Linked DNA regions of Homo sapiens. The protein of the gene in region 1 purifies or fractionates together with the protein of each later gene. This does not show direct contact. Each region holds a gene or a part of one and is shown in the gene's direction. Other genes may lie near its edges.

Region 1 (3,652 bases):
GGACTCTGATGATGTAAACTTAGAATTGTGACCTCATTGCAGGCATCAACAGGAAATAGGTAAGGCATGGGCAGGAAGCCGTAACTGGGGAAGTTTCTGGGCCCAGAAGAAAATGTAGGTAGTCTTAGGGTTAGGTAGCAGCTGTCAGGAACTTGCCCCTGCCCATAAGATCCTAAAGGGCCCCCATTTGACTCTCACCAGACAGTTAGAACTTGTTTCCTCCTCCGTGTCAGCCATCAAGAGGTGCTTGGGGGGCTGTGCCCAGCAGGACCTCACTGCCCAGCAGATCAGCAGGGGAGCCAAGTGGCCTAGATCTGCTGTGGAGTACCCGACTGTTTGCCTGCCTGTCTGCCCTCCTCTTCACCTCATTCTCATCACTGACGTCTACCATTGGCTTGGAAATCAGAAACCCATATCCATCTAGATGGTAAACCATTATTAAGGAGTAACTATTTGTTTTATAGCTATTCATACTTAGTGGAACTTAAAGTTGGTAAAGTTTGAATTTAGGGGTACCCCTGTCTATAGAAATTTAATTTTTTCTATGTTGTTTTTTTGTTTGTTTGTTTGTTTTTTGTTTTTTGAGACAGAGTCTTGCTCTGTTGCCCAGGCTGGAGGGCAGTGGCTCAATCTCAGCTCAATGCAACCTCCGCCTCCTGGATTCCAGCAATTCTCCCGCCTCAGCCTCGGGGGGGCCAGGCACAGTGGCTCACACCTGTAATCCCAGCACTTTAGGAGGCCGAGGTGGGGAGATCACCTGAGGCCAGGAGTTTGAGACCATCCTGGCCAACATGGTGAAACCCTGTCTCTACTGGAAATACAAAAATTAGCTGGGCGTGGTGGCGCATGCCTGTAGTCCCAGCTACTCAGGAGGCTGAGGCAGGAGAATTGCTTGGACCCAGGAGGCAGAGGTTGCATTGAACCAAGATCGCACCACTGCCCTCCAGCCTGGGCGACAGAGCGATACTCTGTCTCAAAAAAAAAAAAAAAGAAAAAATGTATTTGGATTGAACAATGTTGTTTCATTGAAACTTTTACTTGCTCCTTGCAGATTGATTTTGATGATGTGGCTGCAATAAACCCAGAACTCTTACAGCTTCTTCCCTTACATCCGAAGGACAATCTGCCCTTGCAGGAAAATGTAACAATCCAGGTAGGTGCCTGTCATCTGGCTGCAGCCAGTGCGCCAGAGAATTCACTTTGCTTATTGACTCTTTGCTGATTGATTGTCTGGCATTTTAGCATAGTACATGGGCCCAGGATGGGCCCTTGAGAATTGATAAGAGCCATATATTGTGACAATTTGATTTGTTTTTCAGAAACAAAAACGGAGATCCGTCAACTCCAAAATTCCTGCTCCAAAAGAAAGTAAGTGGATTTCTACTAGCTTACTATCATGGAATTTGTGTCAGGAATTATGTTTCTAGGACTCAGAGTTGTGGAAGCTCCTCTTTTGCAGGTGGTTTCTATGTGGGTTGAGTCCTGCCTGTGTTCCAAGCATCTTTCTCTATGAGAAAGAATCCAATCTACAGCTATCAGGCCAACCTTTAAGAGACCTGGTGCATTTAGGAAATTTGCTGCCTGGCCTAGAAACCTTTTCTGTAGAATCCAGAGCCTGATGCTGAGGAGAGTAGGAATCAGCCATTGGTAGGCCTTTTTTCTTCCCTCGGGGCTCAGCCCCCTCAGTGGAACAGTATGCCTTGGAAAGAGATTTTGAAAATGGGAGACACTAGGCCTGTGGGTTGTTTAGAAGTACAGTTGGTGGCGCTATAGAGAGGGATGGCTGGGGCTGGAGAGAATAACAGCATTGCCTCGTGGTCTAGGAGGTTGGGAGTCTCTCTGCAGAAGTAGTCTGTGAAAACCTACTTTGACAACATGATAGACTGTGACTCTAGGGGGTAAGCTTCCCAAAAGATCCAGCTTAAAGCCAGTTGTACCTTGAAGGCTGGTGACCTGCACAGCTCTCCAGGTCTAGGGGTCATCATTGCCCTGAAATGATTCAGCTACCTCAGGGACTCACAGAATACTTGGCTGGAGCTTCAGGTTCTGGGGGCCCTGAGTGGAAGGTGGTGCCATTGCAAGCTTGGGCCTGACTATTGTGGTGCTGGCCCTTTCTTGCTGGGTGTACCGTAAGGTCATGCAGGAGAGTTGGGACTCGCAGCAGTCCCATTCCGTGTTCATGTCCTCAAAGGATATTGCCCCAGCTTTGTTTTGTTTTGTTTTTCAAAGGCAGGGTCTCACTTGGTTGTCCATGCTGGAATACCATGATATGATCGTAGCTCACTGTAGCCTTGAACTCTTGGGCTCAGGCAATCCTCCCACCTCAGCCTCCCATGTAGCTGGGACTACAGGTGTGCCCCATCACACCTGGCTAATTTTTTTTTTTTTTTTTTTTGTAGAGACAAGGTCTCACTATGTTGCCTGGGCTGGTCTCAAACTCCTGGCCTCAAGTGATCCTCCTGCTTCAGCCTCCTAAAGTGCTAGGATTGCAGGCGCGAGCCACCATGCCCAGCCAATAGCTTTTTTTCTTTAGGATGGAGTCTCGCTTTGTTGCCTAAGCTGGTCTTGAACTCCTAGCTTCAAGCAGTCCTCCTGCCTCAGCCTCCCAAAGTGCTGGGACTACAGGCACACACCACCATGCCCAGCTACACAGCTCATTTTAATGGAAAAAAAAATCTTTAAGGCCCTGAGCAGTAGCTCATGCCTGTAATCCCAGCACTTTGAGGGGCCAAGGTGGGCAGATCACCTGAGGTCAGGAGTTCCAAGCCAGCCTGGTCAACATGGTGAAACCCTGTCTCTATTCAAAATACAAAAAACTGGCCGGGTGTGGTGGCTCACACCTGTAATCCCAGCATTTTAGGAGGCCAAGGCGGGTGGATCACCTGAGGTCAGGAGTTCAAGACTAGCCTGGCCAACATGGTGAAACCCCTGTCTCTACTAAAAATACAAAAATTAGCCAGGCGTGGTGGTGGGTGCCTGTAATCCCAGCTACTCAGGAAGCTGAGGCAGGAGAATCGTTTGAGCCCGGGGGGGCAGAGGTTGCAGTGAGCCGAGATCATGCCACTGTACTCCAGCCTGGGTGACAGAGTGAGACTCGGTCTCAAAAAAACAAAGAAAAAAAATTACAGATCATTTGGGGCTAGATGTGATGGCTCACACCTGTAAGCCCAGTGCTTTGGGATGTTGAGGCAGGAAGATGGCTTGAACCTAGGAGTTTGAGACCAGCCTGGGCAATATAGCAAGACTCAGTCTTATTATAAAAATAAAAAATAAAATAAAATCATTAGGGAAATAGGACGATTGTAAAAATTCAAAACATGGATTATATATAGCCATCAGCCTGAACTTATAATACTCAGAAACTGGGTAGAAGTTGGTTTTGGCAGAGGTTGCAGTGAGCCAAGATCATGCCACTGCACTCCAGCCTGGGTGGCAGTGTGAGACTCTGTCTCTCAAAAAAGATGGGCTGGGCACGGTGGTTCACACCTGTAATCCCAGCACTTTGGGAGGCCGAGGCGGGTGGATCACAAGGTCAAGAGATTGAGACCATGCTGGCCAACATGGTGAAACCCCGTCTGTACTAAAAAAAAAATACAAAAATTAGCTGGGTCTGGTGGTGCACACCTGTAGTTCCAGCTACTTGGGAGGCTGA
Region 2 (3,652 bases), on another chromosome or scaffold:
AGTGTTTCGATGTAAGTTATCTTTTATACAAATGTTTAGACTTGGGTTATCTTTTACGCAGAGGCAAGTAATATCTACTCTTTTATTGGTCTAGGAAAATATAACTAGGTCCGTTTCTACCATGAAAATCTAGGTCAGATTTGTAGATCTTGGGAGTGAGTTTAGAACAGTGCTTGACATATATTAGCTGCTTATCTTTTTATTCCTAACTTCAGATTCCAGTAGAATCTTAATGTGTGGGTGTTTTTTTTTTGCCTGCTGTTTCCATTTAGTGTGATTAAATTGTTTTTCTCATTCAGGCTTCAAAAGCACTTAGAATACAATGCATGTGATACATGTCTGTAAGTGAGATTATATGTACGGGATAGTATGTTCTATATGTACTCTAAGTCTTATATACAGATGCCTTTATCTACAGATGCCTAATTGTATAGTTGCCAATGTGTAATAAGACTAAGGGTTAAGGCTTTAAAAAGATTGTTTTTCATTTAAAAGGGATTTAAAGTACTGAATATTAAGCTCAGTTTTTTCAGTTGTCTGATGGTAGGATAGAAAGTTAAGTTACAAGAATTAAATGTAACTTTTGCATTTAATTAGCTTTTTCCTGTGTCACTTAAAAATTATTTGTATTAAAGTGATCACATATTTCTTTAGAAGCCGTGATGAGAGGAAAAAAGATGATCGTTCTCGCAAAAGAGATTATGATCGAAACCCTCCTCGAAGAGATTCATACAGAGACCGGTACAATAGAAGACGAGGGCGGAGTCGCAGTTATAGCAGGAGTCGAAGTCGAAGTTGGAGTAAAGAGAGGCTTCGTGAGAGGGACAGAGATAGAAGCAGGACTAGAAGCAGAAGCAGAACACGAAGCAGGGGTAAATAATATATTTTGGTTATCTTTTTATGAAAAACTCCATGTTTAAATGTTTTTAAAAATTGCTTAACATTTTGTCAGTGTTGTCTTCATTTTTTTCTATTATGATGTATTCTGTGGTCCAAGAGAATGCTTTTTAAAAATTCCTTTAAAAGTTTTATTCCTTGCAAATTAAAATCACAGTTACCACTACACATTCAACAGGATAGCCACGATGATACAGACTGATTCTATTCCATGTTGGTGAGAAAGTAGATAAGCTGAAACTCTTTGGAAAACATTTTGGCAGTATGTAAAAATATTAAAACTACACTTAGCATATGGGTCCGCTATTCTACTTCTTACTGTTTACCTGGAAGAAATGAAAGTGTATGTCCACACAGGTGTTTGTTCACAAAGGTTCATAGCAGACTTATTTGTAAGAGCCAGATCTAGAAACAGCCTAAATGTCCATCAAGAGGTGAATGTATAAACATGTTGTGGTATATCCATACCATAACATGGATAAAAAGAAAAGAACTATTGATACATGCAACAAAATGGATGAATCTCAGTATAATTATGCTGAGTGAAAGAAGCAGGACAATACATATGTATGTTAAAAAATTTTTTTTCTTAATCTTTGTTTTTGTGACAGAGTATTGCTCTGTCGCCCAGGCTGGAGTGCAGTGGTGCTGTTTCAGCTCATTGCAACCTCCGCCTCCTGAGTTCAAGCGATGATCATGCCTCAGCCTCCCAAGTAGCTGGGATTACAGGCAAGTGCCACCATGCTCGGCTAATTTTTGTATTTTTGGTAGAGTCACGTTGGGGGTTTCACCAGGTTGGCCAGACTGGTCTCGAATTCCTGACCTCAGGTGATCCACCCGCCTCAGCCTCCCAAAGTGCTGGGATTATAGGCCTGAGCCACTGTGCCCAGACTAGTTTTTAAAAATGCAAACTAATCTGTGATGACAGAGAGCAAAGCCAGTCGTTGCCTGAAATGGAGTAAAGGAGGGATGATAGATTACAGATTACAAAGGGGCATGAGGATTCTTTTGGAAGTGATGAATATGTACATCATTTATTTGTGGTATTGGTTTCAGAGGTGTTATATCTTGATTAAAACTTATACAGTTTAAATATGTTCAGTTTATTATATATCAGTTATACTTCAAAACTATTTTTAAAAGTTTAAAAAGTTTTATTTCAGATATATATTTTTGCAAGAGCGTGTCATTCCCAACATGTATAATTTTCTTCTAGTACATGTTATTGAAAGTAAGATGTTGTCGTAAAACACCTAAAACACTTTTCAGTAAAGCACCTTTTCTCAAACTTTTTTTGCTACTCTTAATACTATTTATGGCCTTTGTATAAGCCCTGTATTCTGTTACTCTTTTCTTAGAAATTTTCCCCTGCTGTGATCTAGGTATACAAGGCTTCATGGAATGTTACTTCACTTAACTAATCTCTTTAATTTCTTTTCTGTTTCCTGAGGACCATATGTATAGTCTAGTTAATTTCTTTGTGCATGTTTAATATGAACTCTTTCTGGGTCATCCGTTCTTATCTTAATATAACAGCCATTGTAGTAACTTTAAATGGATGACTACAAAATGTTCATCACAGGAAAAATAACCATACTTTATTGCATGTTTTGTTTTGTGGTCTGTAATTATGCATACCAAGATTGTGATGAAGAAAATATAAAATTCCTTTTTTCTATAAACAAAACTCTAAGGAAAAACATTAAATATGGCAGCATTACCTGGTTTTGTAGTTTGGGTTATATTAAAAAGAAATCGCTTACCTTTTAACATTGTATATTAATTGAATATTTTTTAAAAGAAAATGATTATTATGCAAAATTTAAAATTTTTTTTCTATGTTTATAAAAATATCACTATTTCTTAGATCTGGGACTTTTTTTTTTTTAATACAGTGTAGTTTTATATGTCATTTATCTTTCGTTGCAGAAAGGGATCTGGTAAAACCTAAATATGACCTGGATAGAACAGATCCATTAGAAAATAATTATACTCCAGTCTCTTCGGTACCTAGTATTTCATCTGGCCACTACCCTGTACCTACTTTGAGCAGCACTATTACAGTAATTGCTCCTACTCATCATGGAAACAACACTACCGAAAGTTGGTCTGAATTTCATGAAGACCAAGTGGACCATAACTCTTACGTAAGACCACCCATGCCAAAGAAACGGTGTAGAGACTATGATGGTAAGTCTTTCAGCTGTTTGATAAAGTATTTAATTAATATTTCCAGCTGCCTAAATTCTGTGTTTATGTTGTACATAGTTATTCAAAGACTTACCTCTGAAAAGTGGGAAATTAGCCTTAGTCACTTTTTGAATTCCTCAATATGATTGAAACATTTATTAGTTGCCACTAATTTGATTATCAATTTAAAGGTAGTATTTATTTGCAAGTAAGTCTTAATAAATTGTGGGAGTTTACCAAATGAGTAAATATCTACTGAGTTTTTATCAGGGAATCTGCTACTGAAACATTATTGACAAAACTCATTTCTTTAGAATGAGTGATTATTGGACTGTAAATAGAAATGTATCTAGAAATGTAAATGTCACCTTTGTAAGAATTTTATTAAAGAATTAAAGACTTTTGGCTGGGCGCAGCGGCTCACGCCTGTAATCCCAGCACTTTAGGAGGTTGAGGTGGGTGGATCATGAGGTCAGGAGATCTAGACCATCCTGGCTAACATGGTATGCAACCCCGTCTCTACTAAAAATACAACAAATTAGCTGGGCGTGGTGGCTGGCGCCTG
Region 3 (3,652 bases), on another chromosome or scaffold:
GTTGAGTTAATACAAGTGACATAGCTTCCCTTCCCTCCCCCTTCACCCACTCCCTCCAGAACATTTAGTGTAGATGAAAATGTGGTGATAGAAATGGGTGCATGATCTTCACGTGTGACAGCCAGGCCTTTGCCTCTTGGCCAAGTAAAGCCCTTCCGGGTCGCTCTCCTTCGATTCCATTTTACCTCCTCTTCTGATCACTTCCAGAGATGAGCTGTTTCTGGATAATGGCACACGGGCAAATCTGTGTGCCCTGTGGGCCGCTGTTACTTACCCTCTCCTGCGAGACCCAGGGGCTTTTCCCTACTGTTCCCACGCTTCCTCTCTCTCGAGGCCACTGAAGTTTGGAGTCAAAAGGCCCAGAGTCTGAGTCCCAGCCCTGAGCACTTAGGAGCCTTCTGACTTAGGGTTTGTCACTCCACCTCATTGAGCCTGACTGTTCTGCTCCATAAAATAGGGTAATAAAGGTCAAACATCAGTGAGCAAGCTGTGTACACTGGAAAACACTGAATCAATACAATGCGTTTGTGATTATCATTAGTAAGGTAAGTCTTAGATCAGAGCCCTCCAGCCCTTCTTTTTGAAACCTCCCAATGGCATTTCAGAAGTGAGCAGTGGAATTTTCCTGCCATCCTAATAAGAGCCCTGGATTCCATCATTAACATTTCAGCCCATTGGATGAAGTGGTGCCCTCTCCTCTGGTCCCCCGCGAAAAGGTAAATACACCCAAAGGGAGGGACCTAGTTAAGTCACTGGCACCTAGATAAGTTAGGAGGGTAAAGCCACTACCTCGTCTGAAGGACTGGACTTGACACCCCACAGTGGAAGGGAGCATCAGGAGAGGAACAAAAAAAGGGATCTCAGGGAGAGGCCAGTGTCAAACTTGACCTCCCTTGTTTGGCCTAGAATGAACCCTTCTCTTTAGCTCCTGGATATGAAAGGCCATCTGCTTGGAGCACAGAAAGATATTGCCATTTTACAGCTTAAGAGAGTAAGGCCTTGGGCTGTGCTGTGACCTGCCCAAGATTTGACACTGGCTAGGAGCAGAGGCTGCGTCAGGCTCTTAAAGTCATGTGTTTGCATGCTGGATGCTATACTGTCCAGCCAGGACACAAGACTTCTGATTTCTACCCTCAAGATACTCCCAGATCCTAAATCCAGTAGCCTCCCAGGCAAAATATAGCAATCTGCCACAACTGCCAGATGAAAAGCAACAATCAGAGTAGAAAAATCTGTTGCCTGATATACATAACACCAATCAGACCGTGTGGATTTTTCTCTGAATTGACTGATTTTGTTTTTTTCTTACTGAAAATGGACCTGCCTTTCACTGAATTTTCTGAGGGCAGAGTCTTAGCTGTTTTCTTTAAGCACCTTTTTTTTTTTTTTCCATTGGGAAATGGCTGATGAGTTCACATTTAGGGATGTACACACACAGATGGCAGACGTCTCCCCACTCATCCAGCCCCAGATCTGAGCCTTGACGCAGGCCAAGTGGAAAAATACTTTCCCGCCCCCCTCCCCTGTTCCCACTTCCTCATCTGGCACTATGCATGTCTCACTCACCCTCCACAGCACTCAGTCCCATCGACGTTCACTGAACATTGGCTTTCTCTTTCTGACTCCTGCCTGTTTTAGTCCACTATATATTGCTGTATTTGCTTAAATGCTGGAAAGTAACTGTTAAAATGTGAAATTGTAATTTTTAAAAAGGCTACAATTAAATTTTAGCCAATGCCACTCACCAAATCTTTGCACCTAGTAGATAGATCAATGTAAAAACAAATACCTAACTGTACAGTGAGTGTGGGGGAAATGTAGTAACCTAGTTAGTAGTCTTCAATATAACCAATTGTACAAGGGGAAGTGGTGTTTACCTACTTGTTCATCACCATTATTGAAAGCCGTACTGATCAGTTAGTTGACAACGGGCATTTTTTTTTCTTTGCTTCATGGAATGATTTCTTTTCTTAACCTTCGACTTATCCTGAGGTCAAGCCTTTTGTCTTTATGTGTAACCGACGTTCAGTCTATTCTAGGAATGAACCAGCAAGTTGTTCATTTAAAACTGACCAAAGACAATTAATTCCTGGTCTAGTTTCCTGGGCCTTGTGGCTCAGCTGCCACTAAAGAGCTTTTTGGATAAAATTGAGAACAAGCTGTGCTTCCTACCCCACTCTCCCCGTCCCCTTTTATTCCCTTTTCCTCTTAAAGAGCTGCTCTGAGCTGTGGGATTCTATGAAAAATTCTTGCCTTTCCTTGTTTCAGTGCTAACGATTTCTCACCTCGAAGCGCCTTTTGAACCCCGGACAGAGTGCACAATCGGAGGGAATTGCGAGCTTGGGAATTAGACTTTGGAGTCTTTTCTCTGAAGTCACCAGGCCAGGGGTCAGGAGAGAGATGGATTCCCAAGGGATGAAAGGTTTCTATTCAATGAAGAAATCGGAGTGGGAAGAGACACAGGGAAATTGAGCCATATTTTGGCTATCGGCTGGAACCAGCAGTTCAGAGATCTGCCTTATAAACATTTAAAACCGGTTTGTGGTACACAAAGAGGAACCAGTGTGGGAAGGGGCCTTTATGTGGGGCTTTCTTCTCTGTTGGAGTCCCTTGGAGTGCCTTGTTGGGTATATTTCTCTGTCATTCAGGAGGCACGAATGTGGAGGACTTCTCGTGACCTGGTCGTGATGTGGCATTCAGTGCATGTCCACAGCTAATGGAAAAACACGAGGACTCGGGTAATGGTTCTTCCTCTCAGTCTTTCTATTCCTAACTTTTCACACATCCAGATGGTTCCACACTAGTGCAAATGCCTCACTCTCCTGAGAAACCCAGAAAGAAGAGTGGCTGGCTCACAACCATGGGGTTAGCCCCTGCTGGGCTGGGAGTCGGGGTGGCGGCCAGGAGGAAAGGCAGAAAGGGGTGAGCCGAGGTGTTGCCTAGCTGATTTTCTGCTGTGCAGAGCTAATGCTGACATTTCATGTCAACTTCCCCGGTTCTCTGGGGTCTCCTCTCCTCTGAGCAGCCACATAGAACATTCCCCACATATCCAAAGCTGCCCAGGGGAGCCGAGAGAAGGGACTTTGCTGTCAGGTCCAAGCCCTCCTGACCTCCCTGAGATTGATCTGCCAGTGTCCTGCTGTCCCTCTGGGACTGGCCACATGGCCATCGCTGCCCCTTGTTGACACCTCCTTTCTGTGTGAGTTGTCCCCGGCCAATAACAAAGCTGTTCCTTGAACCAGAACAACCAGAGTGCACTTTTCCTTCCTTAGACGGAAGTAGATCCTGGCTAGGGTTTCTGCCCAGGCCCTTGTTCCCGGCAGTGTGACTGTTTACATGGTTTGGCAATAGGTTTGATTCTGATTGCTTCAGAGTGGCTGGTCTATTTTGTTTCCTTTGGTTTCCTTCCTCCCCAAATTGTGACAGGAAAAACAGACCAAAACCACCCTAGGAAATTGCTGGTTGCCTGTCCCCACGTGATGATAAATGTTGCCCTCTTCTGGATATCGTTTCTCTACCTTACGACCAAACGCCCGTCCTATAGAGTGTCTGATTGGATCCTCTGTCGCGTATTCTGATGGTGCCTGCTGGTTTGACGTGGAGCTATCCTGTGAAATAAAACAGCTTAACTTTTCTCAAACATGCTCCAGTG

The links.
Region 2: the proteins of KIF2C (region 1) and RBM26 purify together in Homo sapiens (affinity purification with mass spectrometry; one large-scale study listed by BioGRID and IntAct). This does not show direct contact.
Region 3: the proteins of KIF2C (region 1) and SRGAP3 purify together in Homo sapiens (affinity purification with mass spectrometry; one large-scale study listed by BioGRID and IntAct). This does not show direct contact.

The regions. Positions count from the first base shown.
Region 1 is NC_000001.11:44,746,333-44,749,984, forward strand, and holds part of KIF2C (kinesin-like protein KIF2C), read left to right. Parts: intron 1-61; exon of another isoform or gene 62-424; coding exon of another isoform or gene 425-427; intron 428-1,051; coding exon 1,052-1,153; intron 1,154-1,319; coding exon 1,320-1,368; intron 1,369-3,652. UniProt on the Homo sapiens protein: In complex with KIF18B, constitutes the major microtubule plus-end depolymerizing activity in mitotic cells. Regulates the turnover of microtubules at the kinetochore and functions in chromosome segregation during mitosis.
Region 2 is NC_000013.11:79,368,165-79,371,816, reverse strand, and holds part of RBM26 (RNA-binding protein 26), read left to right. Parts: intron 1-654; coding exon 655-872; intron 873-2,826; coding exon 2,827-3,087; intron 3,088-3,652. UniProt on the Homo sapiens protein: May be involved in the turnover of nuclear polyadenylated (pA+) RNA.
Region 3 is NC_000003.12:8,980,579-8,984,230, reverse strand, and holds the end of SRGAP3 (SLIT-ROBO Rho GTPase-activating protein 3), read left to right. Parts: 3' UTR 1-3,640; downstream 3,641-3,652. UniProt on the Homo sapiens protein: GTPase-activating protein for RAC1 and perhaps Cdc42, but not for RhoA small GTPase. May attenuate RAC1 signaling in neurons.